Homo sapiens: one gene and its partners. The protein of the gene in region 3 purifies or fractionates together with the protein of the main gene of each other region. This does not show direct contact. Each region holds a gene or a part of one and is shown on either strand. Other genes may lie near its edges.

Region 1 (4,027 bases), on a different chromosome or scaffold from region 3:
GGACAATAGGAGGAAATGAGAACACAGGCCGGGCGTGGTGGCTCACGCCTGTAATCCCAGCACTTCAGGAGGCCAAGGTGAGTGGATCACTTGAGGTCAGGAGTTCAAGACCAGCCTGGGCAATACGGTGAAACCATGTCTCTACCAAAAATATAAAAAAATTAGCCAGGCATGGTAGCACACGCCTATAGCCTCAGCTACTTGGGAGGCTGAGGCAGGAGAATCGCTTGAGCCCAAGAAACAGAGGTTGCAGTGAACTGAGATTGTGACACTGCACTCCAGTCTGGGGGACAGAGTGAGACTCCGTCAAAAAAAAAAAAAGAAGGAAATTAGAACAAAGATAGTTGTGCTCTCTCCTCAGTTGGAGAAAAAAATAAAAAGACAGAGATTTGTGCTCATTGCTCAGCAAGCTGTCCATTGAATCTGTACTTTAAAAATTTCTCCGCCCTAATGGAAAAATTGGAAATGAAATCCTCCTTCAGTCTCTCAAAATAAGATGATGTCATGATGCAGGTAGGGCTGAATGCCCAGAATTGGGCAAAGCGATAAAGCAGGAGGATCAGCAAAGATTGATGAGGAGCCCTCAGGCCTTCTAACCTAATATAATGAAGAGTTAGAGGATCATAGTGATGGTGGTGTGGCTATTTTCTGGTTTGAGGATTTGCAGGAAAATAGACTTTTTACTTCTGACTTTGGAGATAGGTGAGTTTGGAGTGTAAAGTGTCAATGTTTGAAGCCAGAACTCTAGTGTCCAAATAATTAAACAATTGGGGCAGAAGAAAAGCAGAATAAAATGTTTTGTTTTCAAGGAAGGAAACCCTTAGTAGCAGAGCTAGTCCCTTAGGACCAGAGCTAGTGTTGGAAGGGTCAGATCTGGTCAGAATAATTCACCTGGAGATAACTTCTAACTTGGGTTTCTCTGAAGTGGGTAGTTAAGAAGAAAAGAAAGTGGGATTATTCGTCCTGAGTCTCAACTCGTACTCGCCCATCCTGAACTCTCACTGTCTCTCCCTTTCCTTTCAAATAAGCCCAAACTCCTTTGCCTGGCTTCAAAGACTTCCTGAGCTGGCCTGTTTTTCCTGCCTTACCCCGTCTATTCTACTATTTATAAGGTATAATAGTTTCAAATAAACTAAATTACTGTTTCTTGTCCAGAATTTGCCTTTGCTCATTGCCATTCCTCCCATCTCAGATAACTTCCTACTCAACTGCATTCATTCTTCAAAGCTTAATTTTGATAATTTAAGCATAAAATTCTCTCAGGCTTCTCCAAACTATTGTAGTACTTTATACATACTTTAATAGGACTTTTCTATTTTGCACCATCTTATTAGACGTGGAGGCAGGATCTATGGTTTGCTTTTTGTCTCTCTCTCAGCCCCTGGCCAAGTGCCTTGATCAATAAGGTGCTAAAAAAATATTAATTGAATGAATGGCTAATGACCAAAACTTACCAGACTAATTGAATTTATTTCAGTAGCAGACCTGGAAACGAGGAGGCCGTTGCAGGGATTCATTGATACAGTTGACTTAGCACCCTGCCTCTTAGTGCATTTGCATATGAGTCTCTAGAAGCCTGTTGTTCTCACAGTCCAGGATCTGAAGGCCTTGGAGACCAGCATGGGCCACAGGCATCTCTTTGTTTTGAGGATAGAACCGTGACAGGAAGAAAATTGACCAGTATTACACTAGAATTAATGAAGCTAGAAATGCTTTTGGCATTCTAGACCAGCACATGGGTTTGTTTTTACCCCTTTGCCTCTACAGGATGGAGCTGCAAAGGTGACCTGCATGGCTTGGTCCCAGAACAATGCCAAATTTGCTGTCTGCACAGTGGACCGAGTGGTCTTGCTGTATGATGAACATGGAGAACGGAGAGATAAATTCTCCACCAAACCAGCTGACATGAAGGTAAACAGTGTATTCATGTGTACCTTATTTAACCTATTGATGGGGTCTCACAACTTGAAAGACGTAGTCTGCCTTCTAGCCATCAGCATAGGAAATGGCATACCCCACCTTTTTCTCAGTATAAATCCTCAAGCTCCCTTAGGAGCACACATATGCCTTTTTTTCTCTTTTCTCTTTCATGTGTACTCATTACTTCTTTTTCTTTCTTTTTTTTTTTTTAAACTCTTAGTATGGCAGGAAGAGCTATATGGTGAAGGGCATGGCTTTTTCTCCTGATTCCACTAAAATTGCCATAGGACAGACTGACAACATCATCTATGTCTACAAGATTGGAGAAGATTGGTGAGGATAGAGACTGGGAGATGGGATGGCCCAGGAAAGAAGGGGAAGGCAAGAGAAATGCCTCACTGGGGAGGGGAAATACAGGGGATGAGAAGCCAAGCTTGGCCATTGAAGGCAGAGACTTTCTGGAGTCTGTTTTTGCTTTTCTGCCTTCACCTGTCCCACGTGTTCTTCAATCCCATCCCTGGAGGAAACAGTCCAAGGTCAACAGGAGGCCCTGTGAGATCCTGGAAGCCCAGAGTGATGTCACATCTTTGTTATTGTTCTGAAGCTGCTTAGGCTCCCTCATATACCTCCTTTCAGGGCTCCTACAGAGTAGTCAGAAATACTACTGGGCCAGGGAAGAAATCTGCTCTTTCTTCTCTTCCCTCAGCATCATTTTTGGCAATTTGTTTATGGAAGTGGTATTTATTTATTTATTTATTTTGAGATAGAGTCTCACTCTGTCACCCAGGCTGGAGTGCAGTGGCGCGATTGTGGCTCACTGCAAGCTCCTCCTCCCAGGTTCACGCAATTCTCCTGCCTCAGCCTCCCGAGTAGCTGGGACTACAGGCGCCCACCACCACACCCGGCTAATTTTTTGTATTTTTAGTAGAGACGGGGTTTCACTGTGTTAGCCAGGATGGTCTCGATCTCCTGACCTCATGATCCTCCCGCCTCGGCCTCCCAAAGTGCTGGGATTACAGGCATGAGCCACCACGCCCGGCCTGGAAGTGGTTTTTAATATGTTTCCCCTTCTTTTGTTTGGCAGGGGTGACAAGAAAGTCATCTGCAACAAGTTCATCCAGACGGTAAAGTTCAGACCAGTCCCTGGAACCTTAGGATGAACAAACATATATCAGTATATCTACTTATAAATACAGCCAGGAGTTGCATTTCTAACATCTGAATGTGACTTTTCCTACTGCAAGGATGGTGCTTCATGGCTGTTCATGGTCATCTGCTGTCTTCCTTAGAGCCCTGCTGTGTCCTTCCCTATAGGAGATTGAGGTGGTGGTGTGTGGTGGGGTGTTGAAGTTGTTATAAAAGTGCTGGCCCACACAGATGGGGTTATCCTTTTCATTGTTTCCTTCCACGCAGAGTGCTGTCACTTGTCTGCAATGGCCGGCAGAATACATCATTGTCTTTGGACTGGCTGAAGGGAAGGTAAAAGAGGGAAGGGAAACACAAGAGAGGGGGTGGTAGGGATAATGGTTCTGGAGAGAGGAATATGGTTCATCCTCTTTCTTAGGATCAAGTTGCGTACTGGGGAGAATGCATAGGGACCAGTTTTGTGGGACAGTTTTTCCTTTTTTTCTTAGGGCCTAGTTAAATATAAAATAGCCTAACCATACTTGTATCAATTTTTCCATTTTCAGGTTCGTTTAGCAAACACCAAAACTAATAAATCATCTACCATCTATGGGACAGAGTCTTACGTGGTGTCCCTGACAACAAAGTGAGTAAAGAGGAGTAGTATCACTAGAGTCTGGAAGTGTTAGGAAAATGCTGTGGGGAAGTCTGGACTGCAAGACCATAGTATGAAAGGCAGGAGAACTGGTAGCAGGAAGCACAGACAAGGTTGTGTTTGACAGAGAAAGGGGCTTTCTTGGTGAGATAAAATAGTCTCTTCCTGTATTTCTCTCCTTTCTCCTTTTTTAGTTGCTCTGGGAAAGGAATTCTCTCTGGTCATGCAGATGGTACCATCGTTAGGTATTTCTTTGATGATGAAGGCTCTGGAGAGTCACAGGTATGAATAAAGAATGTTGTGGGAGGCTTGGATTGCTTGAGTCCA
Region 2 (4,027 bases), about 77 Mb from region 3:
TTGGGAATCATGAGACCTAGTTTTTTGGCCTTTGACTCAGCCACTGGGTGACTGTGGGCCCTAGAATAAGTCATTTAAGTCTATTCTCCAATAGTATTGCCTTTTCTTTCAGCAGTGTTGTAAATATGCACTTGAAGTGTGCTGTTTTTCTTTTCTTTTTTTTTTTTTTTTTGGTAAAAAGACAAACATATAAGGCTGTAGTAGTGTAGTAGTGGTATGTACTATATGCCTCTAGGTGCTTACTTATTTCTTATGATGAAAGCATTTCTGTTAAAATGGGGAGTACCTAAGTGATCATATATTTCATTTATGTAATGGAAGTTGATGGATAGCTAATGGCCCTTCCAGTGTAAAGCGGCCATCATTAAGGTAACATTATCAGAAACAGAATCATTTTTCATGTAATACAGCTTTTAGGGACAGTGTCAACTTATGAGTAAAGCATGCTGTTACAGGTAGGACCCGGATAGTCCAGGCTGAAAGATGTGGTATAAACTTTGATGCATATAATAGATGCATAGCAAATATTTGATGAGTGAATGAATGAATGTAATGAATGTATTCCCTTTTTTTTTGGAGTGCAGTGCTGTGATGATGTCTCACTGCATCCTCTACTGCCTGGGCTCAAGTGATTTTCCCACGTCAGCCTTCTGAGAAGCTGGGACCACAGGTGTGTGCCACCATGCCTGGCTAACTTTTTTTTTTATTTATAGAGATGAGGTTTCCCTGTGTTTCCCAGGCTGGTCTCCTGGAACTCCTGGGTTCAGGGGATCCTCCCATGTCAGCCTCCCAAAGTGTTGAGATTACAGGCATGAGCCATCATGCCCTGCCCGGAATGCATTCTTTAAAAAAAAAAAAAAAGCTTTATTGAGGTATAATTTACATACAATAAAATTCACCAATTTTAAGTGTACAGTTTGACAAATTTTGACACATGTATACAGTTGTATAATTACCACCACTGTGTTTATTTTTTTAAACTGTGTGTTATCTTTTAGGAATTGGGTAGCAGATTTATCCCTGGGAATGTTATGAGGTTTCTATGCTCAGATTCAATACTGTGAGATCAGAATGAATATTAGAGTGTTAATGTGCCAACTTGGGAGGAAATAGGAAAACCTTCGGTATTTAATGGTGAGGTAAATAGGAAGAATAAGGAGAGACATTTATTGGATTAGGGGAAAGATAAATAAATTCAGGAGGAAGTAGATTTTAGTTACTTTTAAGACAGAGGATACATTTTGGGGAAAAAGTTACCAAAAGATTTAAGGAGTTGAACTTTTTATTTTTTTTCTTTTGAAATGGTAGCTCCTGAAATATAAAACTTAACATCTTTGGCTGTGCTTAAGAAGCGCTTAACAAATTATGGTTGTTCAAATAATACTTAAGGGTGGGGATGGTGTAAAGTGGTTGAAGGCCTTGCCCTTCCACCTATGACAGAATATCCTTAGTGTTGATCTCTAACTTGTTTTAAGTAATATTCCACAAAGGGAAGAATACATTAGGTAGCAATTGTGGCTTGCGGGGAAGATTGTTTCTTCCTTTTCATAATTTCTCAAGTCACTGAACTTCTCCCAGTATGCTTTAGCTCAAGTCTCTGTCTCTTAGAAAATGCCTGGAACCTGTGCTAGTGAGCTTCTAGAAGAAGCCCCATTTCTACCTTCTCTTTATTTTTTGATTTTATCTTTATTCATTCTGTTTCTGTATGGTGACTGTGTTTTTTTTTTTTGAGACGGTGTCTCACTGTGTCACCCAGGCTGAAGTGCAGTGGTGTGATCTTGGCTCACTGCAAGCTCCGCCTCCCGGGTTCACGCCATTCTGCCTCAGCCTCCCGAGTAGCTGGGACTACAGGCACCCGCCACCATGCCCGGCTAATTTTTTGTATTTTTAGTAGAGATGGCATTTCACCGCGTTAGCCAGGATGGTCTCGATCTCCTGACCTCGTGATCCGCCCGCTTCGGCCTCCCAAAGTGCTGGGATTAGAGGCGTGAGCCACCGCGCCCAGCCGGTGACTATTTTATAAGCCCTTCTCTCACCCATGGATTTGTCTGAGAATGGAAACTTTTTTTTTTTGCTCTGCCCGAAGCAAAGGAATTCTTGTTAAATCCACCATTGGTCCTCCGTATACCATTAGGAAATAATAATTAAAATAACCCTTTAGATCTACTCAAAGGGGTGACTATAATAGTGTTCCCTCCTTGAGCGGGGGACATGCTAATCTTCTCTGTATTATTCCAGTTTTAGTATTTGTGCTGCAGAAGTGACTACTCTGTTCACCTTTGAAAAAATAATAACTCTATGAGGTAGTCATTATCCTTATTTTATAAATGAGGGAACTGAGCTCAGAGCAGTTAACTGCCAGAGCAAGTGAGGGGCAGACCATTGATTCGAGCTCAGGTATGATTGATGCTCAGGTTTGGGGTCTATGTCATTACACTCTCAGTTGTATGGGAGTGGAGGGTCAAGGGAAGAGCTTGAAAATACCATATTAAAATATGAGCCACAACATGACAAGCATTGCTAACCTTTTTAGGCATTGCTGTTGTCATCTATGACTTTCTTAATTTCTGGAGATTCCTCCTTATGTTCTAAGGAATTGATAGTTAATCCTTTAGTATTGCACAACTTCCTTCCCAGACTCAGCATTTTTTTTTTTTTTTTTTTTAAGAGACGGGATCTCACTCTTTCTCTCGATCTGGAGTATAGTGGCAGTCATAGCTCACAGCAGCCTTGAACTCCTGGGCTTAGGCAGTTCTCCTTCCTCAGCCTCCGATTAGCTGGGACTACAAGTGTGCACCACCATGCCCAGCTAATTAAGAAACATTTTTTTTTTTTTTGTAGAGATAGGGTTTTGCTTTGTTGCCCAGGCTGGTCTTGAACTCCTGGGCTCAAGCGATTCTCCCACCTTGGCCTCCCAGAGTGTTGGGATTACAAGCATGAGTGGCACCTGGCCCCAACATGCTTTTTTTTTTTTTTTTTTTTTGAGAGAGTCTCACCCTGTCACCCAGGCTGGAGTGAAGTGGTGTGATCTCGGCTCATTGCAACTTCCACCTCCCGGGTTCAAACGATTCTTCTCCCTCAGCCTCCCAAGTAGCTGGGAGTACAGGTGCCTGCCACTACACCCAGCTAATTTTTGTATTTTTAGTAGAGACAGGGTTTTACCATGTTGGCCAGGCTGGTCTCGAGCTGCTGACCTCGTGATCCGCCTGCCTCGGCCTCCAAAAGTGCTGGGATTACAGGTGTGAGCCACCGCACCCAGCCTTATTCTTTATTAACATGGTACTTTGTATCACTGGCTGTTTGAATTACTCCTCTGAAAGCTTCTACCCGGGTAATCTTTCATTCAAGACCTGCCGTATTTGCATGTGCCCCTTTATACCGTTTGTTTCTTTATTTTTACAAAAAAATTTAAAAATATGGACTGCTTTATGAATTAGCATGTCATCCTTGTGCAGGGCACATACTAATCTTCCCTGTACCATTCCAATTTTAGTATTTGTGTTGTGGAAGTGAGCACTCTATTCCTGTTTTTATCTGGACAAAATAGTATTTTAAAAATGTATTATGGGCTGGGCTAACATGGTGAAACCCCGTGGCTACTAAAAATACAAAAAATTAGCCAGGCATGGTGGCAGGCACCTGTAGTCCCAGCTACTCGGGAGGCTGAGGCAGGAGAATGGCGAGAACCCAGGAGGCAGAGCTTGCAGTGAGCCGAGATCACGCCACTGCACTCCAGCCTGGGCAACAGAGCGAGACTCCGTCTCAAAAAAAAAAAAAATAAAAGTATATTACGTTATTAAAAACTTTATGATTGAAGTATATAATACATATACAGAAAAATGCATGTAAAAGTGGAATTTGATGTTTTTTTCCCACAAACTGAATATACCCATGTAAGCAGCACCTAGATCTAGATCAAGAAACAGCGTTACCAGTACCTAGAAGCCCCTATCCAGTTCCCTTTCAGTTCCTGTCTCCCCTCTACCACCCAGGGTAATCACCATCCTGACTTCTGACAGCATAGATT
Region 3 (4,799 bases):
TTGGATAGAAGACTAATGAATATATTCTCCATATGAATAATAGAAATCTTTAAAATGTTCTAGACTATTTCTGTTTTCCAGTTCACTGGGTACTGTGATTCACTAAATAAATATGTAAATAAATGAATATATATATGTGTGTGTTTATATATATAAATATATGCACACACACATATTTGCCCCTCTATATTGATGTACATATGAAATACTTTACCCTATAAAAAAGTTGGTTTAACAAAGGTCGCTTGTCTAATGTTTATTTGCTACATCTCTGTTTATTGATAATTGATGGAGCTTGCAAAAACAACTTTGTTCTAAGTTATATGCAGTTTGAAGAATTTCTGATTTCTGTTAGTGATAACATGCACAACTTTACTAATCGGAACAAAAGTAAAAGTTAAATATTCTCAAGAAAGCACTAGCTGAGCTACACACACACACATACACGCACAACATACCTTTGTGGCATTCTTATAGCTGGGGGACTTAACTGGCTCTGCCCTCTGACTGCTTGCCAGACTTAGAAGAAACCGAGAAAAAGCAGGTAGAAAAATGTTTATGCTCTAATTGCGAGTGTGGTAGCTGGCGTCCCTCAAGTGGAATGTATATGGGCTTCAAGGCTTTTGACCAACTTCACTGGACTTTCTTAGGGTCTTACCTCTTTTATTCGCACTGTGGGTTCAGGTATATTTATAGTATAGTGCTCTGATTCTTGATCATCTCACACCTATTTTGAAGTATTAGCATGAACCACATACAAGAAAGTCAATAGCCAAACCTTTTCCATTCTTCCTACAGCTCTTGAAACTGGCAGCCTTGAGAACCACCCATTTCCCTTACTACCTCTCACCTAAGCCTTTCCTGGTGCACGATGTTAACTTTACACTATGTATATTACTATTTAATGTCGACACCGCTGTCTTTTCATTTCACATCTGTTATGACATTGTGGCTTTCGCCCTTTGCGGTCAGGGACCATAACTCTTTGACATACTGTGTTAACAGGGACTTACTCAGGAACAGCCATTTGGCTGTTCATGGGGTGTAAAATTCACTGCAGTTTTGAAGCTGAGAAAAGATAGCTTGAATCCTTTTGTAAGTTCTTTGGAAAATGGACAGATTCTTTTTTACTGATAACCTATATCATCACCAAAATGGACCTGTCTTATAATTGACTAGACCTGTTAATGAAATGTTACAGACTAATTTGAGAAATAATTATTGGGTGGGAGAAAAGGGCATTTACTAGAAAATCAAGTAAACTTTGTTATCCTCAGGTATTTAATTGGAAGAATTGAGCAAAAAATTTGTTAATGTTTAGATTGATTTATGTTCCTTTTTCTAATCACTGTTTCCTGCTAAAAAAAATAACTGTTTGGCAAACTTTCTGTAACTCTCTATCTTTTCCTGGTTTATGTCTGTTGTCCCAGGCATTCTGATTACATATCCCAATCACAATCCTTTTATATGTTAGTATCTAATGTGATGTGGAAGAATTTGTATGGTTTACTTGAAAATTGCCTATTGTTTATTAAATTCCGACAGCAAGACTCTTCTGCATAAATGTTTTTGGGTCTTAAGATCAGATTTCAAGCTGGTAGTACTTCATTTCCCCTTAAGGGAAAGGATGTGTAAGATATTTATAAATTCAAGCATGCTTAAGGAATTTATTTAAATGGCTGCTAATTCTACTGCATTAGAAGCATGCCATTGATATGTACTGAATTAAATTTAAGGATATATCATCTCAAAGTATATTCTAGTAATCTTTAATTAGTTAAAAGTATCTTTTAATATTGTTAAGTAAAACTCATTAATTGTAGAAATGCTTAGAGATGAGTTTAGGCTACCTACCGATTTTTAAATTAAAACTTAATTTTTTAATCACTATAAATAAATTAGTAAACCTTTTAAAATATAAAGTTTTCTTACAATCACTTTGCGTAATTGAATATCTCATTCTTACCTAGCTAATGCTTTGTGTCTCCTGTCTTTTTGTTTCTGTTTTGGCTTAGTTTATTTCATTGATCTCTAAGCTGTCTTGTGTGGAAGGGAGAAGCTGCATGACTTGCTAGAAGTTTTACATGTGATGGAATTTAACCTCAGTTTATGTCTCTCCCTGCACAGTCCCTTCAGTCTGAATATGTTCATTACTAAGGCCTTGCCACTCCAGTGAAAGCTGTTCTTCTCTTAGACACAATTTCTTCATCTGGACGAGCAGTGGAGAGGGAAAGCAACTTCTTGCTGGAAGAATATCTCTGCCTTCTTACCTTAAATTAAAAAGAGCACTAAGATAACACCTTCAAGAGACTTGAAAACAGAAAACTGGTTAATGACTACTATAAATGCACTGAAACTATGTTTATGGAGATTTCCATACTTTTAAAGACAGTTTTAATGTTGAATTTGGTATTTTGAAGGGTTATTTTTAATGTATTTTGGTAATACATTTATTATTATATTTACATGTACAGTGTTACATTATATATGTATTGTGAACTTTAAAAGACTATTTTGATAAATTTATAAATATATAAAATTATGTAAAAACTACACTATATTTTGATTTAGATTTTCCTGCTGTTTGCTACCAAAAATTTGTATTTTAAATCTGTTTAGTTTTAGTATGGTTTTGTCTCTAATGAATAAATAATTCCTTCTTATTAAGAAGAAGTAAGGGAGAAAGTTTTTAGAAAGTGATTTTTATGCTCGCACTATAAATATGGCAGGTCAGTTCATTCTTTTGGGAAGTCAGTTTAGTTACACTGAGTTTATCCAAGTTTATCTCTACCAAGAGTATAATGGCATGGGATGGCTTATTTAGGACAATTCCCTTTCCTATTGTTTTTGTTGCTGAGCCAATTTGAGTTAGTTTTGCATCCTGGGGGGCTTTAAAATACAGCATGCAGTGAAAGATCAGAATTCACTGAATATTTCTTCTGAGAGCATGGTTTCATGGTTTTTCTCTATGAAATGACTCAATATTCCAAATGTTTTTTTTTCCTTCCTCCTTTCAAAAGAGTTCTTAACCCAATTAGGATATCCTGCTTTGGGTATGAGGTTGTTGTTGCCTGTAATCACACATGGTTTGACATCAGTTTTAAATCAATGGAGAGAAAAAACTGAAAAAGATGCTGCTAAGTAGTTCTCTGTATTAAAGGAGATATTTTTAAAACAGGGTACAACCCCCTGCTGCACACGCTAGCATATCTGGAACCTACTATGAAAATGAAAGGACCCTTATAGGTACTCACAGCCCTTTCATGTAAGTATGATCTGATATTTAGGTCTTCAGAAGCCTGTAGGTTTCATTTCTATGAGGAATCGAGGAGCGTTACATCCTGATATCCTTCCAGGCTGCTTAAGAATGGACTGCTTCGACACTGAAAGTGCTAGTTAAATGGATTCATATGAAGTGCTTTACTCCCAACCATTGAGTTATTTATAATGTATTTATTAGGGGAGGGTACCTTGAGTCTATTATATATGCTTCATCAAAACATCTTGTTCATGTTTTATGTTTTTAAAAAAGGCATTTGAATGAATGTTTGACTCAGGTTTGTTAAATTAACCTTCAGTAACTGCAGTACCAAAAATTACACTCAACTGATGAAAAAAACGAATTGTATGATTTAGGAATCAAAAACTAAAATAAGTGGAATTATGTATCTTTTCTAAAGTTAAAAAAGTAAAATATTTTATTATGAGTTATTATAAAAATTGGTTAATTGTATAGGAAGATGACAGTATTTTTTTCAAGTTATCATAAAAAGTAATTCAGATGACATTTGAGAAGTAGGGGAAAGGGAATCATGTTGACAGTTTTAGTTCTGTGAACACTAATTTGTGTGAAGCTATTAAAATGATTGTAAAGTTGACTACTGTAAATTTCCCATAATTATGTGTGTATATGTGTCATATGTATGTACATGTATATGTCTAAAAATTACTTTACACATGTGCCTACATAGACACACCAAGAAGTGGATGTATATAATATAGAAAGTATATAGCAAAGTAATTTTACTCTGATAATAAAAATTGTTTGACATGTATTTTGTTATGAATAGTTTATCTTCCAAAAGATATTTTGCTCTATTTTAAAGTGTAGAAGAATACACTGCTAATAAATAATAAAAGTTTTATTCAATTTACTTATTTTTTGGTGTTTATAATTTGAATTTTTGAGTTATCAATGTACTGAAGTCTCTTTATAATTTTATTTTTGGTTCAGTGTGGTCAGTGCCTTGAGTGTTTCAAGATCTCTATTCTGGATTTTAGTTTAGCTTTTATTGACTTTCTAGGTTGTGGCCATTGCCTGAAATACATGACAGTGAGCTCACAGAAACCTTATACTTTGAATTTCACAAAAATCATATAATGTTAGGTTCTTGCTTGCTTTCCCTTTATTTTTTTTACTGTCAATAAAATACTGATCCTGATCAGTGTTTTGGGTCCTGCTTAGTCATTTATGACTACTGATGACTATTGTGTGATTGATCACCAGTTCCTTTTGAAAAAGAATGCCATTTTTCCTAAATGAGAAATTATAGAAATCAGTTAGAAGAAACCTCACACCTGTTGGATCTATGCCCTGAAAAGTCAGTTTGGGAGGAAGAAGCTACACTATTTATTGGAGATATTTTATATAGTAAACTGGATCTCTTTGGGTTATGATGATTCTGAGGTTTTTTTTTCCTTAAATTTTTTTTTTTTTTTTTTTTAGAATGCAAAGGAAAGTTTGTGGGTGAGAAGGTAGTTTTACATTTGGAATTGGGATCTGCAAATAGCTGTCCTAA
Region 4 (4,027 bases), on a different chromosome or scaffold from region 3:
TCTCCCTAGGATTTACAAATACATACACATTTGCATTGAATTTCAGAGCTTTTCACTCTGAGCTTGTTAATGGATTCCAAACTAGAACCTCTACTCTGCATTTATTTTCACATAAGTATGTTTAGACTTAACCACTCTTCACAGTCTTAAGCTTTTATCTCTAATTGCTGGCTGTATATCTGCTTGGATCGCTCATCTAAACTTCAAACTAATTTCTGAAAAGAAGTGTTTTCTGGATTCACTTATTTTAATTTCATTTCTCCAAATTATGCTGGCTTGAAATTTTTTGGCTTCTCCTTCCTCCCATTCACTTAGTCATGAGGTTCTCTCTTAATAATCCTTACTGACATTGCTTAGTAGGGGGCTCACACTCCGTATCTAAATGATTGCAGTTTGCTTCCTAACAAATCTGTTTTTATCTCTAGGCCTTTCTCCCTTCCAGTTCTTCTGACATGGATGCCCAGCCTTGTTTGTATCCCATTGCTTGATCAAAACCTTCAGCATTCCCAGATAATAAATTGCATACTTTTTAGCTTGCCTTTAAGAAAGCTAATGATTTGCTTTAAATTATCTTTTCCATTTATATCTTTCTACTTTTTATATGAGTCTTAATTTCAGCAAAGCTGAACTTTCGTGATTCACTGTCATTTTTTTTTATTGTTTCTTTTTTCTGAAACTTTACTGTTTCTTTTTTCTGAAGATTAGTAGTGGGCACCATTTATTGAGTGCTTACTATTAATATATGTTAATTGTTATACATTCATTGTGTGCAAGATAGGTGTTAGGAAGATGAATTAGCATACTTTATTCATAGCTAGTAAGTGATGGAGACAGGATCCAAAAGAAGACATTTTGATTCCAGAGCCTTGTTGTATTATGGTGTACTGTCTTTATATCCTTTCTTTGTGTTGAAGTCAAAGATCAAGTGTGATTCCAGTTCTTCCAGAAAGCTGCCTATGATCTATCCAGCTGGGTGAAGTGACTCCTCCCACCATGACTCCTCTCTCTCAGCACTGGTTTCAGTTGTCATGACACTCATCACTTGTACATTAAATTATTTAGTCGTGTTATTTTAGCTTTATTATTAGAGTCTCAGGCCCTTGAAAGCAGACTCCAGCTCTTAAGATTTAACTATGTTCCTGTTCATTATATACATTATCTAGCACAATGCTTTGTGTGTAGTATATACCTGATTATTAAATGCGTTAGTTGAAATTTCAAGTTTGTGTACCTAAAACCAAGGGAAGAGGCAATAATTTGGGTAAAACTATAGAATCTACCCAACTTCAGAACAGCAGATATGTGAGCTATTTGAAGATTAAGTAGTCTTTGGGTCTACTTCTTTCCATTTTTACTCCTAGCATCTTCAGTTTAGGTAAAGCTTAAGTTCAGATTTTTTTTTTCTTTGAGAGGGAAAGGTCATTGAAGTATATTAATATTTACTTGTTAAAGTATTATTGAATGTTGCTATGTGCAAGATTGCTGTCTCCATAGAGCTGCACATAAAAGAATTATAGTAATTCTAACCTGATGAATTTTATAGCTGGTAGAAGAGTTAATAGTCTATAATTATTGGTTAAAACATTTTTCTTTATTTCTTTATCCCCTTAACTTGTGATAAATTGACTTTCATAATCACATTTTGCTGCTGCAATCTTATTTGGCCTTTCCATCTGAATGCTGAGTGGTTAAAATGCATTTAGCACTTTTTTTCTGTATGTTTTAGCACTTCCTTATCTTTGGCTGACAGTGCTTCTCAAAATTATTTTACATGCTTAAACTGAGAGATAGGGACTGTATTATGAGCAAAATGTAAAATATTCCCATGTTAGTTATGTACATAACCTAAGCTTGAGAATGACTAACTGAAGCTTGAGCTAAATAGCTTGTAAGATTTTTTTCCCTCTTCTTGCTTCCTTTGTGCCAGAGAAAAGAATGAATGAGAGAAATGAATGAATGGTAAGCTGTTCCTACTAGACTTACTCATTACTCTCCTACTACTTTATTTCTGTGGAAAAAGTCTTTTCAATTTACATGCAGTAACTTTGAAATAGGTAAAAGTTTATTTTTAACTTAGGGTTTTATTAGTATCTTTTATGTGTGTATTAAATAATGGAGTAAGTTCAAGATCTGTTACTTAGTGATTCTTCTTGAGATATTTTACCTATGTAGAAGCATTTCTTTTGTTATTTTTTTCTGCGACATGTTTTACAAATGCTTTTAAAATTTTGATTTTCTGATTTTTATTGTTAGTATATAGAAATATATTTGTATATTGACGTTGAATTCTGAAATTTTACCAAGTGTACTTATTCTAGTAGCTATTTTATAGATTCTGTGGAATTTTCTTCTACCAATCTCATCATCTATGAGTAATGACAATTTTCTGATTTTTATACCTTCATTTCTTTTTTTTTTTTTTTTTTTTTTTGAGATGGAGTCTGGTTTGTTGCCCAGGCTGGATTGCAGTGGCGTGATCTCAGCTCACTGCAGCCTCCACCTCCCGGGTTCACGCGATTCTCCTGCCTCAGTCTTCCGAGTAACTGAGACTACAGGCACGTGCCACCACACCCGGCTAACTTTTTTTTTTCATTTTTAGTAGAGACGACAGGGTTTCATCGTGTTAGCCAGGATGGTCTCGATCTCCTGACCTCATGATCCGCCTGCCTCAACCTCCCAATATACCTTCATTTCTTATCATGCTGGCTAGAAGCAATAGTACAATGTTGAAGTAGTAAGAGTGGACGTCCATGTCTTGTTTCCAGTCTAAAGGGAAAGAGATTAAATGTTTCAGTATTACTGATATTGGCTCTAGGTTTTTAGTAACTGCCTTTTACCAGATTGAGAATTTTTTTCTTAATTTGCTTAATATTTTTGTCATAAAAGGTTATTGTTAACTTGGCTAACTTCTTATTTCTTTTTCTTTTTTTTGAGACAGAGTCTTATTCTCTCACCCAGGCTGGAGTGCAGTGGTGCAATCTCGACTCACTGCAACCTCCACCTCCCAGGTTCAAACGATTCTCAGGCCTCAGCCTCCTGAGTAGGTGGGACTACAGGCGTGCGCCACCACCCTTGGCTAATTTTTCGTATTTTTAGTAGAGGTGGGGTTTCACCATGTTGGCCAGGCTGGTCCTGAACTCCTGACCTCAGGTGATCTGCCTGCCTCAGCCTCCCAGTGCTAGGATTACTGGCATGAGCCATTGTGCCTGGCCAGTTCTTTTTCTCCATCTGTTGAGACGATCATACAGATTTTCCCGTTTTTTTGTTAATATGGTGTATTACATGGATTGCTTTTCAAATATTAAGCCAATCTTGTATTCCTGAGGTAAACCAGGCTTGGTCATGTTATATTATGGTAGATTTGATAATATTAAAACAAGTGGAAGTATTCTATCCTCCGTTTTTCTGAAAAAATTTATTTAGGGTTCTATTTTTTTTTCCTTAAAATTTTTGGGATCCTTCACCAGTGAAGCCATCTGGGACTGAAATTTTTGTTGTGAGGATTTTTTGGTTATAAAATCAATGTCTTTAATAGGTATAGGGCTGTGTAGGTATTTCTGTTTCTTCTTGTGTCACTCTTGACAATTTATGATATTCAAAGATTTTTCTGAAGTTGCCAAATTTATTGACATTGCATTGTAACCTTACTATTCGTTTAATAACTAGGATTTATTGTGATGCTTCCTTTCCCCTTTTTAATTATACCTTTGGTTGCTCTTTTATTTTCTTAATCAATTTTGCTATTAGTTTTTCAGTTTTATTCAGCTTATTAAAGAACAATGTTAACTTTTTTTTCTATTTTCTATTTCAGTGTTTTATTTTTATGATTCCCTTTTAAAACACTTTGGGTTTAATTTGCTGTCCTTTTCCTCTTAAAGTGGAACCTAGGTCGTTGGTTTTACACCTTTCTTTCAGTTATTTTATGATATTGTTCCATTGCCACCGTCCTCTGTTGTTTCTGGTGAGAAATCTGCTGTCATTTGAGTCTTTGTTCTCCTGAATGTAATGTGTCTGTTTTCCCCCTTTG
Region 5 (4,027 bases), about 64 Mb from region 3:
GTCAGGACCCTCAGTGCCTGAGATGTGGCCTTGCCTGGGAGCCCCAGGTAGGGGGAGTCCACCCAATCCTCAGAGAATCAACTCATGCACTCAGGAAATGACTCAGGAACAGTGAAAAGCTCCCCAAGAACAAGTTGAAAGGGATCTTGGTCCTTAATCATAGCAAGGATTTGGTAACCTTGGTTACCTGCAATGAGTCAGGAAAAGACTCCAAGGGAAGGGAGTGGGGGAGGCATTGTCACAGGAGGAAGAAGGGCCTCTATCCCAAATTCGATGAATGTTCTGAGTCCACATCTCTCTCTTCTCCCCACCTTCCCCCAGGAGCGCTATGAAGCAGCCATCCAACGGTCAGTGAAGAAGACGTGGGCCGAAATCCGGCAGCAGCGCTGGTCCTGGGCAGGGGCCCTGCACCACAGCTCTCCAGGACATAAGACCAGTGAGTAGGCTGGAGGGGCTGGGGAGTGGGTGGGCAAGGCTGGGATGGCAAGTAAGGGAAGGGAACAACTTCCCTACAAAAAGCTGGTGGCTCCCTGCAGCAGGTGTGCCTTGCTTTATGTGACTTGTGTCTTCTAGAATGGTCTGTAAGCCAAACTGTCCCTTCCCAAGGACTTCCACTATCAAATCAGAGATGGATTCTCTCCATTTGGTTTGCTCTTCAAACCTCTGTCATTTTAGGATTAGCCTTCTTTGCGCCTGTCAATTATTATTAGTTGTTGATACATAAAAGACTTTAATGACCTACAGACACTGGATCTTAAAGAAACTGTCACTCCTTGTCTCGGAAGGTAGATTTTTGTCTCTGAGTTTTCTCCGCGTAGGGCCACCATGGATTTTGGTCTGATTCTTTGCTGGCATGTATGTACCACTGTGCTTGGATGTCTTTATGCAATGGCAAGTTTCAGTATTTCTAGCTGTGTATCTTCTGTTTATGTGCTCCTGGACCCGTGCATTGTGTGTCTTAATATGTGTTTGCCTTGGCGTGTTTGTGACCTTGTGTACCTCAGTGAGGGCTCCTAAGTCAGACAGACTTGGGTTCCAGCTCTGGCACTTGCAGCGTAACCTTTAACTTCTCGAAGTCTCACTTTCTTCATCTATAAACTGGGGATAGTGATACTACTTGCCCCTGAGGTGGTAGATAGATGTTTGAAGGATCAAATGAGGTCACATGTGTGTGGTGCCCCACACAGTACCTGGCACATGGTAAGCATCAACAAATGTGAGCTGCTACAAATGTCATGATGAGGTTGCTTCGATCTGTTTGTGGCTTGTGTGCATCTGGGTCTGACACACTATCTGTTAGTGTTTGTGTCTCTGTCCCTGTGCATGTCTGCACACATGTGTGCATGCCGAAGTATCTGCCACTCTATATGCCTGTGTCTGCATGTCTTTTTGTGATTCTGGATGAACACGTGGATTTGTGCAAGTGACTGTGACTGTGTAGGTCCTGTTTAGGAGGGTTTTTGCATTTATCCCAGTACGGGGGTGTTGTATCCAAACGTCTTGGCTGGGCAGTGTCAGCAAGTGCTAATGCTGGGTGGTTATGGGGAGGGGTTGCAGTACTCAGCCGTAAGGAATGGCTTCCTTGGTCTGGCCAGGAAAGCTGTAGTTTCTCTAGTTTTACTCATCTCCTCCCTTTGTTCCTTCTCCGTCGGCTCCCCCAACCCAGGTTGTCTCTGGTCACCTACCCCCCCACCCTCCCTCTCCCAGGGCCAAGGCTGCCTCCTGCTCCTCATCCTAGCCTGCCCACTCCTCCCTCTCCCACCCCGCCCTCGGAGCATCCTGCATGGAAGGCCTCGGTGCCCCCCACTGGCTCCTGCCGGGCCCGGCCCTAATGCCGTGTCTTTTCCCCCTCCAGGTGGGAGCAGGTGCTCCGTGTCGGCAGTTAACCTGCCCAAACACGTGGACTCTATAATCAACAAGCGGCTCTCAAAGTCCTCTGCCACGCTCTGGAACTCCCCCAGTAGAAGTAAGAGAAGGCCCAGCCCTTCCCCCTCCAGAGCCCCTTGTAGCTCCCACCAAGCCTCCTCCAGAGCTCAGCAAGAACACCAGGTCCCTGGAGCCCTCACATACTCCAGGTCCCCATCCCCACTCTACCTTACCCAGGGCTCTGTGCCCCTCGGGGGAGCCGGCATATGGGTCTGGACCCTGAGGACAGAGGTTGCCCTGTAGGAGAGGAGAACAGAGACAAAGCACAATGCCGCAGAGGGCAGGAAGCCTGGCAGGAGCCTCAAGAGCAAGTTGGAGGTGGTGGCTGGGGGTGGGGACAGGCAGGCAGCCTTTTCTGCAACCACAGCCAGCTGGTCTGGGCCAACCTTAGCCAGGTGGCATTGTCCCCATGTGTCAGACTGGCCTGGGTGCTGTGGGGTGGAGGGGTCCCTCATTCTGGCTCCACCCTAGAGGGCCCATGCAATCCTGCCCTCTCTGTCTTCAGAGCCCCAGTCATGGCCTTGGCTGGTCCCAGAGTTGAGCCAACCAAGGTGGCATAGCCCCTGCATTCCCACCATGCCCTGGTGCTCATATGTGAAGGAGCCATGGTGGGAGTTATTTATAAGTTTCTCTTGCATTTGTTTGGCTGCTTTGTTGCCTAGCAACCAAATCAGCTGCTGTACCAACCCCACCTGACTGAGGCTTAAAAATAGCCCAGCAGCTGAGGGGACAGAGCAGGGTGGCCTAGGGCAGGCAGGCACCCTAGCAGCCTCTCCCTGGCACAGGACTGCTAAAAGCTGGGTCAGAGGAGCACAAGGACCCTCACTGTCCTGAATCCATGGGACAGCCTCGGCTGGGTCAGCCCTCTGACAGCAGGAGGGGCAAGACCTTACACTGGGACATGGCAGAGGGCAATTGGGTTTTCTTCCAATCCTGGATGGCTCCTTCCTATATGCGCCGTTCAGGGCCCCTTCACCTGGGGAGCGTTGTAGGCGGGGACCCTCATCCGATGCAGGATGTTGCCCTGGGAAGTGTCTGGTTGCCTGGGTCTGTAGTGGAAGTCCAGATCATAGGGAGGACAAGTGTGGCCCCGGTGTGATTGTGGGGAGAGGACTCCCGGGTGAGAAGCCTTGGCCTTGGCATGGGGATGGTGCCTGGTCTGCTCCCTTGCCTCTTCCTGCCTCCTACGGCCCCCACGGTGACCGGCTTCGCCTGGCCTTCTACCCCCAGATCGCAGCCTGCAGCTGAGCGCATGGGAGAGCAGCATCGTGGATCGTCTGATGACGCCCACTCTCTCCTTCCTTGCTCGGAGTCGCAGCGCGGTCACACTGCCCCGCAACGGCCGGGACCAGGGTAGGGGCTGCGACCCTGGGAGAGGCCCCACGTGGGGCCGGGCAGGGGCCAGCCTGGCGCGCGGGCCGCAACCCGACCGCACTCATCCCTCTGCAGCCGTGCCGGTGTGCCCGCGCTCGGCCTCCGCCAGCCCCCTGACGCCGTGCAGCGTCACCCGAAGCGTGCACCGCTGCGCCCCCGCCGGTGAGCGCGGGGAGCGCCGCAAGCCCAACGCCGGGGGCAGCCCCGCTCCGGTGCGCCGCCGGCCGGAGGCCTCGCCGGTGAGTGGCTCTACTGGCTCGAGTGGCCGCGCAGGTGGGGACAGGCAGCCTGGAACTGGGGTACGCGGGCGCTGCTGACCTCTACTCTCCTCTTCCGTTCCTCCTTCCCTGCCAGGTGCAGAAAAAGGAGAAGAAGGACAAGGAGCGGGAAAACGAGAAGGAGAAGAGTGCCCTAGCCCGGGAGCGCAGCCTCAAGAAGCGCCAGTCGCTGCCCGCCTCCCCACGTGCCCGCCTCTCTGCCAGCACCGCCTCTGAGCTCAGGTGGGCGCGGGCGGTGCGAGGGACCCTGCCCCTCACCGGGTCATTTATTCATCACCCACAAATATTTGTTGGGCAACCACCTCTAGAATGCAACTTCCCTGAGGGCAGATTCTCTCTGTTTTGTTTGAGACAGGATCTCCCTCTGTCACCCAGGCTGGAGTGCAGTGGCACAATCTCGGCTCACTGCAGCCTTGACCTCCCAGGCTCAGGCTATCCTCCCACCTCAG
Region 6 (4,027 bases), on a different chromosome or scaffold from region 3:
ATTTTTGTTTTTTAAGGGTTATTCCTTTATTCTCTCTATAAGTTCTTTTGAAGTGTGGTGTTAGGGAACCATGCCCGAGTTTGCTTCTTAACTCTTCCAATGTTTATCAAATCATATTTTCCCTATGCTATGTCATCTTAAACAATTCCTTGACATTTTCTATTTCTTTGTATTTTCATTGACTATATTGCCATTTCTAGATTAGCTGATTAATGTACAAATTGAATTATTTTGTATTTCCTTGGTAATACAGGCTAATGATGCCAAAGGAGGAAAAACAAATGGACTTGAACACTGGTCGAATGCGTCGGAAAGCCATTTTCGGAGATGAAGATGAATCTGGAGATAGTGATGATGAAGAAGATGATGAAATGTCTGAAGATGACGGGTTGGAAAACGGCTCTAGTGATGAGGAAGCAGAAGAGGAGGAAAATGCTGAGATGACTGATCAGTATATGGCTGTTAAGGGCATCAAACGACGGAAACTTGAGTTGGAAGAAGACAGTGAAATGGATTTGCCAGCATTTGCTGACAGTGACGATGACCTTGAGAGGAGCTCAGCGGAAGAAGGGGAAGCGGAGGAAGCTGATGAAAGCAGTGAAGAAGAGGACTGCACTGCAGGAGAGAAGGGCATTTCAGGATCAAAGGCTGCTGGAGAAGGTAGTAAAGCAGGGCTGTCACCAGCTAATTGCCAGAGTGACCGTGTGAATCTGGAGAAGTCTTTGCTGATGAAGAAAGCAGCTCTCCCCACTTTCGATTCTGGGCATTGCACAGCTGAAGAGGTGTTTGCATCTGAAGATGAATCTGAAGAAAGCTCCTCACTCAGTGCAGAGGAAGAAGACTCAGAAAATGAAGAGGCTATTAGAAAAAAGCTTTCAAAGCCTTCTCAAGTGAGCAGTGGTCAGAAACTGGGGCCACAGAACTTCATTGATGAGACCAGTGATATAGAAAATTTACTCAAAGAGGAAGAAGATTACAAGGAAGAAAATAATGATTCCAAAGAAACGTCAGGTAAGCTTAAATGTAGTTGGTTGCTGCTATGAACTTGGCTCTCGAAATGGTAACCAAAGGAATGTCTACATTTAGGGGTCTGTTGATTCTGTGATTTTGTTAACTGTTGAAAAGCTGCATTGTGGATGGATCTCAAGGGAGGGGAGACACATGAATAAGCCTAACTGGAGGTTGGCATTGGTCGTTTCAGGTGCCCTCAAGTGGAAGGAAGACCTTTCCAGAAAGGCAGCTGAGGCCTTTCTGAGGCAGCAGCAAGCAGCTCCAAACCTCCGAAAGCTTATTTATGGGACAGGTAAAGAATTCTGGTTCAGAACTAGAAATGTTTTAGTTTCTCTGATTATTTAGATGAGGGAATTGGTTGGAGGATTCGGCTGGTATTGTTGACATCCATAATTGCTGTCCATCACATTTCATATTTGACAGATGTCTCTAATCATCAGCTTATGAGGACCACACATTGGTCTTATAAAGTAGACTTATGGGTTTGCTGTAAAACTTGATGCAAATACCGTCCATTGCATCATGTTATGTCCCCTATTTAAAAGTCCTTCATGAGAATTTTTTTGTAGATTAGTGCCAGAAAAATATTCCTGCCCATAAAAATATTTATTTTTTTCCTTTCTGAGAATGAGAACCCTGTATAACACATTTTGTTCTCCCTTTTGCCCTTGTCCTCTGATTTTATGCTTTACTAAACTTACCAATATGTTCTTTCTGGTAGAATTAATGCAAAAATAAATATATAGTGGTGAACTTTACATTGTGCTCCCTGGTTACTGCATGGTGAGATCAAGGCCACATGGTGAGACATTTGGGCTCAGCCCACTGAATTGGGAAGGTTGTTGTATACTGATTTTCATTCAGGTTTTGTCTAGGTACTCTTAGTGATGAGAGGCTCAACACTCTTTAGAGCTCTTCTTTAATAATCTAAAGCTCTGCCTTTAAATTCCCTTCCCTCCCTTCACCGCTAATATTCTCACTCCTCGGCCTCTTAGCTGCTCCCGTGCAGGAGCACAGGAGCCCCACACATGTAGAGCAATAGCTTCCTGGCTCTCTTCATCTGTGGCTGCCCTGCCCTCTCAATGCCTAACTCTTATGTGGCCATTGCCATACCCACCACAGACAGAGTCCCTCAGTTCCTGAGTTCAAAGACTCATGGCCTAACTGGTTGAAAATGATGAGTCCTCTAGGGCTGTAATTTTTGTTCTCACTTTTCTGCCATGGTGTGCTCTTTAGTGACAGAAGATAATGAAGAAGAAGATGATGATACTCTAGAAGAGCTTGGAGGGTTGTTTCGTGTCAACCAGCCTGACAGAGAGTGTAAGCACAAGGCTGACTCTTTGGACTGCTCCAGATTTCTTGTGGAGGCCCCCCATGACTGGGATTTAGAGGAGGTAAGTCTGGGTAGTACATTTGATTTATTAGAGAATTAGCGAATTGTTCTAGAATAAGATTATCTGATGTCAATATTGCTTACCTGTTGTTGGCTTCTTATTTTTACAGGATTACAGGTCATTCTCCCAGATATTGTAGTGGGCGCTTCATGCATCCTAAGCAGTAACATGTTCTGAGTTTAGTTAGACCATGTACATGGCCCACAGAGGACAGGTTCAGCTTTCAGTGTGGACAGTAGTGTGCATCTTTATTTTGAAACATCACACATAAGTTTTTATACATCAGATGTATTTTGTGTCTTATCACTAGGATATATGTAGCATCCCTGAGTTAACATTTATAGTTTCTGCTATTTGTAAGCATAGAGAAATCTGTGATACCTGTATATGTTCTTCCTGCAGCTTACCATTTTGTAGTCACACTGGAATTCATTCAGTACTCAAACTCACCACAGCTTACCCTCCTCTTAGACCTCTTCTCTTTCTCTCTCTCTCTCTTTAAGATATGGTCTTTCTCTGCAGCCCAGGCTGGAGTGTAGTGGCACAAGTGTATGGCTCAATGCAGCCACGACCTCCTGGGCTCAAGGGATCCTCCCACCTCAGCCTCCAGAGTAGCTGGGACTATAGGCACGAGCCACCAGGCCTGGCTAATTTTTGCATTTTTTGTAGAGATAATGTTTCACCATGTTGAGCTAGTTTCGAACTCTGGGTTCGAATGATCTTCCTGCCTTGGAACTTCCCAGAGTGCTGGGATTACAGGAGTGAGCCATCGCGCCAGCCCCTTTCTCTCTATTCTCTTCTGGAATGTTCTGATTTTCCAAAGGCTGCTTTCTTTTTGTCAATTCAGTTTGGCTTAGATGTCACTTCTCACAGAGGCCCAATTGCTATCATACTGTCTATTGTAATTCGCCAGATAACACTTAATGTACTTTATGAGATTTTATTTAACCATTTTTTTATGGTGAAATTTAATACAGATATATAAAACCACGTAAAAACAATTGTTCAGCCTAATGGGTTGCCAGAAGGTGAATATCCCTGTACTCAGCACTCAGGCTGGGAAATCAAGCTTTGCTGCTCAATTGTGACACCAGCCACAGTCCCCTTCCTCCCTGTAGAAGGAGGTGTAGTCCAGCCTCTTAAGGTGATGCTTTCCTTTTCTTCCTGGTTTCCTCCTCCATGCTTCCATAAGCATCATAGTTTACTTTTACTTGGTCTTCATTACTGTTTTTCAGTCTATCTTTTAACATTTTTAGTCAACAGTCTTTCCTTCCCATTTCTTTCTTTGGTTACATTTTATTTAATAAACCAAGTCTTTGGTCTGTAGAGTTTCTTGTATTCTGGATTTTGTGGATTGCTTTGCATCCCTCTGGAGTTTCCCAGGCCCTCCTGTATTTCCTGTGAATGGGTATGGAGCAATACCAATAGAACTTCTGTAATGAAAGGAATGTATATCTGAGCTGTGGGTTGTGGCTACTTGTGGCTACTGAGCTCTTTAAATGTGGCTAATGAGACTGGAGAACTAAATTTTAAATGTTATTTAATCTTAATTAAGATTAATTTAAATAGTCACATATTTCTAGTTACCCTGTAGACAAAACATCTAGCAGTTGGATGGGATT
Region 7 (4,027 bases), on a different chromosome or scaffold from region 3:
TTCCCAGTTGGTAGTATTGGAGGCAGGGTTACAGCGAACTTTTTGCAATTTGAGTTTAAAGAAGAAATTTTTTTTATTTTTTTATTTTTTGAGACGGAGTCTCGCTCTGTCGCTAGGCTGGAGTGCAGTGGCGTAATCTCGGCTCACTGCAACCTCTGCCTCCCGGGTTCAAGTGATTCTCCTGCCTCAGCCTCCTGAGTATCTGGGACTACAGGCGCGTACCACCACACCCAGCTAATTTTTGTATTTTTAGTAGAGATGGGGTTTCACCATGTTGGCTAGGATGGTCTCAATTTCTTGACCTTGTGATCCCCCCGCCTCAGCCTCCCAAAGTGCTGGGATTACAGGCGTGAGCCACCACACCCAGCCAAGAAGAAACTTCTTAATAGAGGAAGGGAGGCATAGGGGGCAGAGAGGCTAAAAAAAGTTTTGTTTGTTTTTTTTAATTTTTTTACGCTTTTTTTTTTTTTGTCTTTTGTTTTGTTTTTTTTTCCTTTTTCTGGAGAACGGGGTCTCGCTATATTGCCCAGGCAGGTCTCGAACTCCTGGGCTCAAGCTATCCTCCCGCCTCTTAGCCTCCCTGAGAGCTGGGATTACAGGTGTGAGCCACCGCGCCCGGCCTAATTTTTTTAAATAAAAGTTCTATGTGCTTAATATAGAAAACTTGCCAAAAAGTCCCTCAAGTTCCTATTCTCCAAAGCCAGTCACTGTTGAAATTTTGCCATAGTTCCTTACATGTACGCTTCTTTTTTTTTGATACAGGGTTTCACTCTGTCCCCCAGGCTGGAGTGCAGTGGTGCAGTCATGGCTCACTGCAGCCTTGAGTTTCTGGGCTCAAATGATCCTCCCACCTCAGCCTCCTGAGTAGCTGGGATCACAGGTGCATACCACCACATCTGGCTAATTTTTGTAGAGATGGAGTCTTGTCATGTTGCCCAGGCTGGTCTCGAACTCCTGGGTTCAATCGATCCTCCTGCCTCTGCCTCCCAAGTAGCTGGGATTACAAGCATGAGTCACCGCGCCTGGCTAATTTTGTATTTTTAGTAGAGACGGTGTTTCTCCATGTTGGTCAGGCTGATCTCGAACTCCTGACCTCAGGTAATTCGCCCACCTTGGCCTCCCAAAGTGCTGGGATTACAGGCGTGAGCCACTGTGCCCAGCCCCAGTCTGTTTTTTACTTAACTCATAGTTGTGGTTGTGGTTATATATTCTTTTTTTTTTTTTGAGACCGAGTCTCGCTCTGTCACTCAGACTGGAGTGCAGTGGCACGATCTCGGCTCACTGCAAGCTCCGCCTCCCGGGTTCACACCATTCTCCTGCCTCAGCCTCCCGAGTAGCTGGGACTACAGGCGCATGCCACCATGCCCGGCTCATTGTTTGTATTTTTCGTAGAGACGGGGTTTCACCATGTTAGCCAGGATGATCTCGATCTCCTGACCTCGTGATCCGCCCTCCTCGGCCTCCCAAAGTGCTGGGATGACAGGCTTGAGCCACTGAGCCCAGCCATGGTTATATTCTTATCCAATTTTGTATCATTCTTTTTTCACTTTGTAACTCAAGCATTTCTCTGTGACATTTCATATTTACTGTACATGTTTTAGTAACTGCAAAATCTATATAGTTGGCATTCCAGTTTTATTTAAACCATTTTCCTGTCATTTTCACTGTTAGAAATCCTTCTGCTGTGAACATCTTTGTAAATAAAGCTCTTTCTAGGGTTTGGATTTATTTCTGTAGGTCATATTAACAAGGATGGACTTTCCAAGCCAAAGGATATAAAGAAACATTTTAGGGACTCTTGGTACATACTGCCCACTGGGAAAAAGGGACTTCTGATGTATCTGGAAGTTGTAGGACTTTCACTGGGTCCTTGCTGACAGGGAGTTAGCCTGTGAAGACTTGGGCCCCAGTCTTTCCAGGCACCGTCACCCCTGTGCCCACTTCTCCTTGGTCCCTTTGTTTCTCCAGCAGCCATTTCCTTGCCATGCCTGTTCTAGATGTCTGTTGAGGGCCCAGATGCCACATTTGCTTATATTTCTTTATGTTATATTCTCAGAATTTATATGACCTGGATGAAGATGATGATGGTATAGCTTCCGTTCCTACTAAACAGATGAAGTTTGCAGCCTCAGGCGGCTTTCTCCACCACATGGTATGGCATTTCATGTTTTCTTACACTGCGTGTCTGATCAGGCAGGTGGGAGAGGTCGTGTTGAATAGAACCTGTTGTTTTTTTTGTTTTGAGACGACATCTCGCTCTTCTCCCCCAGGCTGCTGGAGTGCAATGGCGCAATCTTGGCTCACTGCAACCTCCGTCTCCTGGGTTCAAGCTATTATCCTGCCTCAGCCTCCCTAGTAGCTGGGATTACAGGCGCCTGCCGCCACGCCCAGCTAATTTTTGTATTTTTAGTAGAGATGAGGTTTCACCATGTTGGCCAGGCTGGTCTCAAACTCCTGACCTCAGGTGATCCGCACGCCTCGGCCTCCCAAGGTGCTGGGATTACAGGCGTAAGCCACTGCGCCCGGCGTGAATAGAGCCTTTCAATGCAGAAATATTTCTTTGTTTGGGCCGTAAGATTTTCAGAGCTGGAACTAGTCCATTCCCTTAGTTTTATAAACGCTGAGACACTGGGGTGCCTTCTGATTTGTTCAAGGTCCCACAGCAAGTGAAGTACAGGGCTGCAGCTCCTAGGTGCTGTGTTTGAGACACTATAGGGAAAGTGTGAGTGATCCCACAGTGGGGAGTCTGTGTTCTTTCCTTGGTGGCTGGCCATTCTGCATGCTTCGTAACCCTTTGTGGTCAGCAGCTCTGGCGCTGCTCTTGGAGTCTGGATTCCGTTGGTTAACATTAGCAGGAATACATCTCACCTGATCTGTGGGCTCTACCAGGTGCAGCCTGCATGCAGGGAAAGCTTGCTAGGCTAGAGTGTTGGTCAGACATCATGCAGAGAAGGAAAGAAAACAACATCTGGGATCATCAGGGAGGTCCATGCTGCTCAGCTCAGTGGTACAGCCAAGTGTCAGACAGGGAGGCCAGTGGGCTGCCTAGGTGGGTCCTTGTGGCAGCCACCTCTTTTGTTTTTCCTTCAGACGCTCAAAGACTCAGTTTTGGTTACTGTCCTGAGTATGTGGACCAGCCTCCTGGTTAGTAATTAAGAGAAATATGGGCCAGGTGCGGTGGCTCACGCCTGTAATCTCAACACTTTGGGAGGCAGAGGCGGGCAGATCACAAGGTCAGGAGATGGAAACCATCCTGGCTAGCACGGTGAAACCACGTCTCTACTAAAAAATACAAAAAAGTTCGGGCGTGGTGGCTCACGCCTGTAATCCCAGCACTTTCGGAGGCCGAGGTGGGTGGATCACGAAGTCAGGAGATCGAGACCATCCTGGCAAACATGGTGAAACCCCGTCTCTACTAAAAATACCAAAAAATTAGCCAGGCGTGGTGGTGTGCGCCTGTAGTCCCAGCTACTCTAGAGGCTGAGGCAGGAGAATGGCACGAACCCAGGAGGTGGAGCTTGCAGTGAGCCAAGAGGCGCCACTGCACTCCAGCCTGGGCGACAGAGCGAGACTCTGTCTCAAAAAAAAAAAAAAAAAAAATATCCGGGGTGTGGTGGCGGGCACCTGCAGTCCCAGCTACTCGGGAGGCTGAGGCAGGAGAATGGTGTGAACCTGGGAGGCAGAGCTTACAGTGAGCCGAGATTGTGCCACTGCACTCCAGCCTGGGCGACAGAGTGAGACTCTGTCTCAAAAAAAAAAGAAACATGAAGCTGGCTCGGCGTGGTGGCTCACGCCTGTAATCCCAGCACTTTGGGAGGCTGAGGTGGGCAGATTACCTGAGGTCAGGAGTTGGAGACCAGCTTGGCAACATGGTGAAATCCCGTCTCTACTAAAAATAAAAAATTAGCTGGGCATGATGGCGCGTGCCTGTAATCCCAGCTGCTCGGGAGGCTGAGGCAGGAGAATTGTTTGAACCCCGAGGTGGAGGTTGCAGTGAGCCAAGATTGCGCCACTGCACTCCAGCCTG

What was found.
Region 1: the proteins of CDC14A (region 3) and IFT172 purify together in Homo sapiens (affinity purification with mass spectrometry, with the first as the bait; one large-scale study listed by BioGRID). This does not show direct contact.
Region 2: the proteins of CDC14A (region 3) and LUZP1 purify together in Homo sapiens (affinity purification with mass spectrometry, with the first as the bait; one large-scale study listed by BioGRID). This does not show direct contact.
Region 4: the proteins of CDC14A (region 3) and RBM26 purify together in Homo sapiens (affinity purification with mass spectrometry, with the first as the bait; one large-scale study listed by BioGRID). This does not show direct contact.
Region 5: the proteins of CDC14A (region 3) and MAP7D1 purify together in Homo sapiens (affinity purification with mass spectrometry, with the first as the bait; one large-scale study listed by BioGRID). This does not show direct contact.
Region 6: the proteins of CDC14A (region 3) and BMS1 purify together in Homo sapiens (affinity purification with mass spectrometry, with the first as the bait; one large-scale study listed by BioGRID). This does not show direct contact.
Region 7: the proteins of CDC14A (region 3) and POLDIP3 purify together in Homo sapiens (affinity purification with mass spectrometry, with the first as the bait; one large-scale study listed by BioGRID). This does not show direct contact.

What each region holds. Positions count from the first base shown.
Region 1 is NC_000002.12:27,483,244-27,487,270, reverse strand, and holds part of IFT172 (intraflagellar transport protein 172 homolog), read left to right. Parts: intron 1-1,028; exon of another isoform or gene 1,029-1,112; intron 1,113-1,767; coding exon 1,768-1,911; intron 1,912-2,140; coding exon 2,141-2,253; intron 2,254-3,004; coding exon 3,005-3,044; intron 3,045-3,104; exon of another isoform or gene 3,105-3,243; intron 3,244-3,333; coding exon 3,334-3,399; intron 3,400-3,611; coding exon 3,612-3,691; intron 3,692-3,894; coding exon 3,895-3,982; intron 3,983-4,027. UniProt on the Homo sapiens protein: Required for the maintenance and formation of cilia. Plays an indirect role in hedgehog (Hh) signaling, cilia being required for all activity of the hedgehog pathway.
Region 2 is NC_000001.11:23,162,194-23,166,220, reverse strand, and holds part of LUZP1 (leucine zipper protein 1), read left to right. Parts: intron 1-4,027.
Region 3 is NC_000001.11:100,516,124-100,520,922, forward strand, and holds the end of CDC14A (dual specificity protein phosphatase CDC14A), read left to right. Parts: intron 1-2,127; coding exon 2,128-2,157; 3' UTR 2,158-4,154; downstream 4,155-4,799. UniProt on the Homo sapiens protein: Dual-specificity phosphatase. Required for centrosome separation and productive cytokinesis during cell division. Dephosphorylates SIRT2 around early anaphase.
Region 4 is NC_000013.11:79,396,085-79,400,111, reverse strand, and holds part of RBM26 (RNA-binding protein 26), read left to right. Parts: intron 1-4,027. UniProt on the Homo sapiens protein: May be involved in the turnover of nuclear polyadenylated (pA+) RNA.
Region 5 is NC_000001.11:36,173,043-36,177,069, forward strand, and holds part of MAP7D1 (MAP7 domain-containing protein 1), read left to right. Parts: intron 1-321; coding exon 322-436; intron 437-1,855; coding exon 1,856-1,966; intron 1,967-3,156; coding exon 3,157-3,539; intron 3,540-3,654; coding exon 3,655-3,800; intron 3,801-4,027. UniProt on the Homo sapiens protein: Microtubule-stabilizing protein involved in the control of cell motility and neurite outgrowth. Facilitate microtubule stabilization through the maintenance of acetylated stable microtubules.
Region 6 is NC_000010.11:42,796,221-42,800,247, forward strand, and holds part of BMS1 (ribosome biogenesis protein BMS1 homolog), read left to right. Parts: intron 1-253; coding exon 254-1,011; intron 1,012-1,201; coding exon 1,202-1,303; intron 1,304-2,247; coding exon 2,248-2,405; intron 2,406-4,027. UniProt on the Homo sapiens protein: GTPase required for the synthesis of 40S ribosomal subunits and for processing of pre-ribosomal RNA (pre-rRNA) at sites A0, A1, and A2.
Region 7 is NC_000022.11:42,597,823-42,601,849, reverse strand, and holds part of POLDIP3 (polymerase delta-interacting protein 3), read left to right. Parts: intron 1-2,056; coding exon 2,057-2,152; intron 2,153-4,027. UniProt on the Homo sapiens protein: Is involved in regulation of translation. Is preferentially associated with CBC-bound spliced mRNA-protein complexes during the pioneer round of mRNA translation. Contributes to enhanced translational efficiency of spliced over nonspliced mRNAs.